3 separate regions of the Homo sapiens genome follow, and all the other regions are linked to region 2. The links come from fine-mapping of genetic effects on gene expression. A gene starts in region 2. Each other region holds a variant in brackets. All regions are shown on one strand. Distances are from middle to middle.

Evidence for each region.
Region 1: its variant is fine-mapped to the expression of SPAAR in visceral fat (GTEx, PIP 0.91).
Region 3: its variant is fine-mapped to the expression of SPAAR in subcutaneous fat (TwinsUK, PIP 0.95).

What each region holds. Positions count from the first base shown.
Region 1 is chr9:35,929,466-35,932,231 of GRCh38, reverse strand. No RefSeq gene overlaps it. Among named protein-coding and RNA genes, the nearest start is that of SPAAR, 21 kb to the right of the region's middle. The variant T/C (reference allele first, on the strand shown) is at 1,069.
Region 2 is chr9:35,907,815-35,910,580 of GRCh38, reverse strand. It overlaps SPAAR (small regulatory polypeptide of amino acid response), which reads right to left and starts at 1,091. Exons shown (of 2, transcript NM_001348107.3): 1 at 1,017-1,091; 2 at 1-424. The coding sequence starts at 117. RefSeq lists an enhancer at 1-419.
Region 3 is chr9:35,885,372-35,888,137 of GRCh38, reverse strand. No RefSeq gene overlaps it. Among named protein-coding and RNA genes, the nearest start is that of OR13J1, 16 kb to the right of the region's middle. The variant GTTTT/T (reference allele first, on the strand shown) is at 1,461.

The sequences.
Region 1 (2,766 bases), 22 kb before region 2:
CTCAAGCAATCCTCCTGCCTTGGCCTCCCAAAGTGCTGGGATTATAGGCATGAGCCACTGCATCCCATCTTTGTTTCCTTTTAAATGTGTTTTATCTTTGATTTTACATAATAAAAAGAAAATAGAAAAATGAATAAATATTTTCATACAAAATACAGCAAGCACTACCATCAGTAGTGCTTGAACAGTTCAAGTATGACAATTTCTGTAAGCCCACATGTCCCCCTGTCCCTAAGAACCAGATCACAAAATCCCGGGCTGTGATTTCAGCAGGGCACCCTCCGCAGCACATCCCAGCTGGTTTTCTACACTCATCTGGCATCCTAGGGACCACTGCATGTAATTCCAGCCCCTTTGGCCAAATCCCAGGAGCTTTCCCACAGAAAACAAAAACGCACATAAATTGACAAAGCAGCCACCCTTTAGCAATTCTAAGACAATCTAGGCTCAAAGTGCCCTAGGTGGGTTCATAAAGATTAGATATGTCATGTTTGCGTTCACTGTTTTTTCTTTTCTATTGCCTTGAAAAATAACAGGCAATACTCGGTTACTTCTAAAATGTCAAACCCCACGGAAGTAATCTAATTCTTGCACTGTTTCCCATGCACCCACCCACCACATAGATCTCTAACCCAAAGCAAGCACCATGAGCAAAGAACTGAGGATTCTGTGGGTCCTCTGACCTGGGCCTCCCAGGATACCAATCTTCCAGGGAACTCACCCGTATATAGTGACCTGGCCATACTGAGAGCCAACCCCTTCTGCGTTCATATATCTAAGGCAAATTATCTGGTCAATGAGCTACACACAGCAGTAAATGTAGCCGGTAAGACCCTGACTCGATGGGGTTGTAGCCAAGAGGAGAAGGTGACACTGAATAGGTAACTAACTGTCAGTGTGATGAGTCCCATGAAGGAGTGTATAGATCACTTTAGAAGCTTAGCATAGGCTACGTACTCTAGCCTGGGGTGGCAGTGGTCAGGGAAGCCTTCTCCGACAAGAAGCAGAATAAGGGGATCAAAGTTACAGCTCATTGTGGAGAGGAATCTTCCAGTGAAATGGCCTGAC[T/C]CAGAAGGTGTCTAGACAGAAGACAGAGCACATGTGGGGGATGCTAGGGAGGACATTTCCTGCCCTAGGTGGGTTGGAAGGATGTAGAGGAGCAAAGTCATCAAGAGCACAGGTTCAGGGAACAAACAGCCCTTAGGTCCCTTTCACCTTCGTCACTTACTAGCCACAGAAACAGACAAGTTGCTAGACCTCAACATTATGCACAGTTTTAAACATACACAAAAATAGAATAATTTTACTAACAACCATGTTCTATTCATCACTCAGCCTCAGCAATGACCAACCCATAGCCAACCTTCTTCCATTTATAACCTTATCCAACTTCTCCAACTCCATCATTAATCTGAGGCAAATGGCAGACACTGCATCATTATACCCATAAATATTTTATTATACCCATTAAAAAGGTATCTCTAGAAGATGACTTCTTTTAACATATTGCACAATACTATTATCATGTGTAAAATGTTAGTAGTGTCTTATTATCATCAAATATCTAGTCATTTCTAAATTTGAAAATTATAATTGTCTCATAATGTCCTAATGTTTTTCTCTCTCTCTCTCTTAATGGTATCTTTGTTTGAATTAAGATCTAAATAAGGTCCTCTCATTGCATTTGGTGCTTTGCCTCTTTAAGCCTTAATTTCCTCATCTAACTGAAACCCCTTACCATATCCTTAATTTCAGAAGGGCAAAGCTTTAACCATAACTGGAGAAGAGTGTCTGTCTGAGGATTAGCCAGGTAGTCACTTGCAAGAAATTCAAGGATTCTTTCCTTGGGTTCCAGTTGCCTGTTGCAATGTCCATAGCATCCACCATAGAGGAAGGATTAGGGGTGGGTCCTGTGCCCTATTCAGGTTGCCCCTCATGTTCCTCAAAGGTCTTGGCAACCTTTGTTCTCAACCCTGGCTGCTGCCCAAGCAGTTGCCCCTCTTTCAGTCTACCTGGGATCCTCTTTAGTCTTCTTCCTTCACTACCAAGCTCCAGCCCTAAGCCTCGTGGGCTCTTTAAACTCTCCCTCCGACTCACCTTTTCCTACTGGGGACTTCTCCTTCTCCCTTGCATGTGTCCATGGTGGCCAGTCACTGGGTTCCATCTTGTTTTCTCCTGAATGGAGATGATTTCAAATGGGTGAACACAAAGGAGGAGATGAAAGAAAACAACCTAAGCCTCAAGCACCCAGAGACAGTCAGACTTTTAGCACAGCTCCAGTGATTGCCTCGTAGTACATCACTTAGATTTACGTTATTATGCCCCCAGCATCTCTGTCTCTCTCTGAGCTTTGAGTTGTCTTACAGAAGGCAAACTTTTGTTATCCCAGCTTCGTGTGAATCTCACTCATCCCAAAAGCAGGAGTTGGTGTGCGTCAGGCCTTACGAAAGGGAAATTCTGCCATATAACAATGAATTTAATAACTCCAACTACACAGGTAGATATTGGGTGGAATTCATGAACAAAATGGTGAACAAAATGAGTAAAAGGCATCAATCCTGACACTTGTGAATTTTCACTAAATATAACTATAAAACAAGTATTATTATCAGGTGATCGCTGAGGTCTCTCCCATCTAACTACCAACCCTAAGGCACGAAGGAGTCGGGACTGGGCTCACATGTCGTGGACGCTGGAAGACCCACCTCCTAGGGGACCCTGGACACGATGCCCAAAGGGGCTGTGAACTTTGCTCCCCTTCAGTTT
Region 2 (2,766 bases):
AGGACCCCCCTGAGGATCCTGGGCCCTTGAGTCACAGCTGAAGCAGCAGAGGACGCAGGTGATGGCCACAGTCACCACGAACAGCACCACCACCACCCCAATCACTGCCGTTTCCATGGCCCACTGAGCAACCTTAGGTCCTCTCGGAGCCTTCGCTCCCATCCAGAACAGGAGGCTCTTCGCGATCGCAGGTGCCCCGTGCTCCTCCGGCGGCTCTCCTTCCGTCTCCTAAGAAGATGCTGCTCTGAGTCCCTGGGTCGCTCCTGCTCCAGGCCTTCGGGCGCTGCCACGTGGCCCCACTGCTGAAATCTCAGATGATCTCTGTCTATTTTCTAAGCCTCAGGCCATGCCTCCAAGAGCTGTGGTCAGCTCCATGTCAGCTTCTAGAAGAAGCACTGTCCTGGAAGACGTGAGCACAGATTCCCTGGACACAGAGAAGGTGGAGAGGAGGGGTCAGAAGACGTTGCACAGAGACAGCCTAGCCAGCGCTGGCCCTCCGGTGACGCCTACAGATTTCAAGAGCAAGTTACGCCCAGACCAAAGACAAAATACTCCCCCTACTATGGATGCAGGAGGAGCCCGGCTCCTCCCCAGGAGGGACCTTGGGCCAGTCCTTCAATTGGCCTATCTGCTGCCTCCCCAGCCCCTGGCCCTGTGCTGGGGGCAGGGACATGAGGAGGGAGGAAGGCATGCGCCAGCTCTGGGCAAGGCAGGGGACACTCACGGGTCACCCCAGGTGCCAGGGCCTTTAGTGGGGGCTGGAGGCAGGGGCAGGTTGCATTTGGCGTCCTTTTCTGCATGGCGCTGGGATCATGCAGTTTAGATAGAGTATCAGGTGCTTCCCCGGGAATCCCTGCCCTGTCCATGACCGTGGGGCTCTTTACCCGGAGGTCCCGGAAGAGCCTTCTTAGATGCCGGCCTCACCCACCCTCTTTGCTGCCTGCTTAGCCCGTTGCTCACATTCTTGAACTATTAAGATTTACCCTGGGCTCCCCAAAGGCCAGCCCTGGCTGTACCTGGTGCTGCAGCCTCCTGGCCTGGTGGCCGTCCCAGGGACCACGGCGTTCCTCCCTGGGTGCTGCAGCCTCTGTCCTGGTTGGAACTTGGCTCCGAGATGTCTGAGCAGCTGTGAGCACTTCCTGAATTCTTTCCTCCAATTGTGAGCGAGGGCCCAGGACCCACACTGCAGCCCTCCAACCCCCGCTCAGCAGTTATCCCGTCCCGCCATGCGCACCCCAGGCCTTTTCCACCCTCCTCCCTGCCAGGAGGTCAGGGGAATAAGCTAGGCCCAGGCAACTGAGTTAGTCTGCCAGGTGAGAGCCCTTTCACACCCAGCACCTCCTGAGACCCCCACCACTTCCAGAAAGGAGACTGGGCTATTAGCCCCACTTTGTCCATATTCTGGGAAACAGAGTAGTGAGAACAATAACTCCAGGCATGGGACCTCACCAGACATGATCTCATATAACCTCCCCAGCAACCCTGCATAGCGATATAGCCTCCATTTTATAGAAAAAGATCCTATGGTCATAGAAGTTAAATGACCTGCCCCCCATTCTGAATTAGCCATGTTAACAGGCACGAGCAATGGCCGAGGAGGGACCGCCCTCCCTCCACTCCTAGCTCAGTGCACTTTCCAGTTACCATGGGACCACAGAGCGACCATCTGATTCTGCGGTTTTAATGATCTGGGTGCAAAGTGCCAGAAAGGGCAGAGGGCTGGCCCAAGTTCACATAGCCTGGGTCCTTTTCAGTTTCTCCAAGGCCCAAGGGAACTTTCTTTAGTATCAGCATTAGGAAACTGGCACTTTGCACAGAATGGGAGAGCAACTTTTCAGAGCAAACGATAGCCTGTCATATTCTCAATCTGTCCCTTTTCTGAGATGATGAGACCATCTGGGCCCTGGGCTCCTCCTCCACATGGAGCAGGCTGTGGGCCATGACAGGAAGCCAATTCCTTGGATTGTTTGTATTAACTGGGATGACCAGGAGGAAGGAGACGACGGGCTGATCTGCAGGGCCTGTGGTTTCAGGTTGAGTTACCAACATCACCTCCTTAACTGGGGTGATAGAGGGCACCAGGAGACTATGCCTCAAGCTTTAACATTTGTTCCTTTGATTTCTCATCGCCTATTCTTCCTGTGTACACGCAGCCATAGGCCGCCTGCAGATTGTCTGAGTGGTTCCGCATTTTTGAACTGGAATAAAGGGCAATTGCTCAGCGGGTTCTCTCCTGCCCTGCATAGGCTTCCTTTTCCGTTTCCTGCTTTCGGGGAACCTCCTCCCCATCTTTGATTCATCTGTGAAATCAGCCTGGAGATGCCTGGGAAAGGGGCAGGGCTGCAGGGAGCAGGCTGGCAGGAATCCAGGAGGGGGATGGAGGGGGCTGGGCTAGGCAGGGCATGGGAATGGAGAAGGGGGTGGATTTGAAGGACACTGCAGAGAAAATCGACACTGCACGGCAGCCTAGGGTCAACTTTCCCAACCCAGAAACCTCAGGTGGGAGAAATCAGTGTGAATTTGCCTCCCTCTCTCTCTCACTCCCTCCTCCTGCAGCCCTCACAGAGAATCCACTGGGAAATAGAAAGGAAAGAGGACATTCTATTCCAGTGAGTCACCAGGTCCCTGAGTCTCTGGCCTGCTCTCCAGCCCCTCCCCACTGCCTCTCCTGGCCCCCAGTCCTTGTCTTCCCCCAATTCCCACCTCAGCTCACAGGCACAGGCTGAAGGCCTCAGAGCCAGGCTTCCTTCCTCGCTGTGGATCCCA
Region 3 (2,766 bases), 22 kb after region 2:
CGCGGTGGCGTGGGCCTGTAGTCCCAGCTACTCGGGAGGCTGAGGCAGAGGAATGGCATGAACCCGGGAGGCGGAGCTTGCAGTGAGCCGAGATAGTGCCACTGCACTCCGGCCTGGGCGAAAGAGCGAGACTCTGTCTCAAAAAATAAATAAATAAATAAAAATAAAAATAAAATAAAGTTTTGTGCTCCAAATACACCATTAAGAAGTGAGAAGAGGCCGGGCATGGTGGCTCACGTCTGTAATCCCAGGAAGGGATATTCTGGGAGGCTGAAGGTCAGGAATTCAAGACCAGCCTGGGCAACATGGTGAAATCCCATCTCTACTAAAAATACAAAAATTAGCCAGGCGAGGTGGCATGTGCCTGTAATCCCAGCTACTTGGGAGGCTGAGGCACAAGAATCGCTTGAACCCGGCAGGTGGAGATTGCAGTCAGCCAAGATTGTGCCACTGCACTCCAGCCTGGGCAACAGAGTGAGACTCTGTCTCAAAAAAAAAAAAAAAAAAAAAGTGAGAAGAGAATTCAAAGAATGGAAGAAAATATTTGCAAATAATATATCTGATAAGGGGCTTATATGTAGAATATATAACTCTTACAACTCATTAATAAGAAGACAAACAACCCAACTTAAAAATAGGCAAAGAACTTGAATAGACATTTCTTCAAAGAAGATATAAAAATGACCAATAAGCACATGATAAGATGTTCAACGTCATTAAGCATCTGGTTGCAAATCAAAGCCACAATGAGATACCACTTCACACCCATTAGGATGACTAAAATCAAAAAGTCAGGTAGTAGTAAGTATTCACAAGGATGTGGACAAGTCAGAAACCTCATACTCTCCTGGTGGGAATGTAAAATTGTGCAGCTGCTTTGGAAAACAGCCTGGCAGTTCCTCAAAAGGTTAAACATAGAGTTACCACATGGCCCAACAATTCCACTCCTAGATATACACCAAGAGAAATGAAAAATGAAAATCTATGTTCACACAAAGACTTGTACACAAATATTTATAGCAGCACTATTTGTAATTGCTAAAAGGTGGAGACAACCCAGATATCTATCAACTGATAAATAGATAAATAAAATGTAGTATAGCCGGACAATGAAACATTATTCAGCCATAAAAGGAATGAAGTATTGATACATGCTAGAACATAGATGAACCTTAAAAACAGCATGCTAAGTAGAAAATCAGTTACAAAAAATCATATATTATATGATTACATTTATATGAAACGTGAAGAATAGGCAAATTTGTAGGATCAGAAAGTAGGTTAGTGGTTGCTTAGGGATTGGAGGATGGGGGCACAGGAGGATAGCTACAGGGTACCAGATTTCTTTTTGAGGTGATGAAAATGTTCTAAAATTGCTTGTGGTGATGGCAGTTCGACTCTGTGTATATGCTAAAAGCCTATGAATTACACTCTTTATTTATTTGTTTGTTTGTTTGTTT[GTTTT/T]TGAGACAGGGTCTCACTCTGTTGCCCAGGTTGGAGTGCAATGGCGCAGTCTTGGCTCACTGCAACCTCCGCCTGCCCGATTCATGTGATTTTTCCCCCCTCAGCCTCCTGAGCTGGGATTACAGACCACCATGCCTGGCTAATTTTTGTGTTTTTCATAGAGACAGGGTTTCACCATGTTGGCCAGGCTGGTCTCGAACTCCTGATCTCAGGTGATCTGCCCACCTCAGCCTTCCAAAGTGCTGGGATTACAGGTGTGACCCACTGCGACCAGCCCTGAATTGTACACTTAAAATGGCTGAATTGTATGGTATATCTAATAAAGCTGTTCCCAAAAAAAACAAAAAAGAAAATATAACAAATTAACTTGAAAACCTAGATGAAGTAGAAAAAGTCCTAAAAATACGTAATTTGCCTAAACTGATTTGTGATATGATAGAAAACTTATAACCATTTAAAAAATTGTCAGTAGTTAAAATCCTCCCACAAGGTGAAGACTAGTTGCAAATAGGTCCAACTTGCACAAACTATCCCAGTATAGAAAAATATTATAAGCTAGCATAACCTTGAAACCAAAACCTGACCAGACCCTATAGAAAAGGAAAATTATGACACAACATCCTTTATGAATATATATGTAAATCCTGAAAACATATTAACAAATTAAATCCAGGCGTGTATGGAAAACCTTCTAAATCATGACAAAGCCAGATTTCTTCTGGTAATACAAGGGTGATTTACCATTAGAAAATCAATTGACATAATTCATCATATTAAAACAATAAAGAAGAAAGACTATATTATCATCCCAATAGATGTGAAGACTATTGGACAAAATTTAACATTCATTTTTGATTTTAAAACTCTTAGAGAAAAAAAACCAAATGAAGAACAGTAATATATTATGTCTTCATTTGGGTGAAAAATAAAGGGGGAATGTGTGTGTGTGTGTGTGTGTGTGTGTGTGTGTGTGAGATGACCCTCGTTACAGTGTCCAGAGCAGAGAACTAGGTTATGAGGTGACATGAGTGGAAGGGAGAGTTTGTCTACATATCCTTTTCTGCCTTTTGAATATTGTGCCGCAAAAATGAACAGACTATTAAAAATAAATTTTAACTTAACAATTAAATTACATTTGTAAAAAATGCTTAGCAAATTAGGAATAGAAAGAAACTTTCTTAATCCAATAAAGAATATCTAAAATCAAACATCATTCTTAATATTGATATTTGCAGCTGGGCATGCTGGCTCATGCCTGTAATCCCAGCACTTTGGGAGGCTAAGATGGAAGAATCCCTTGAG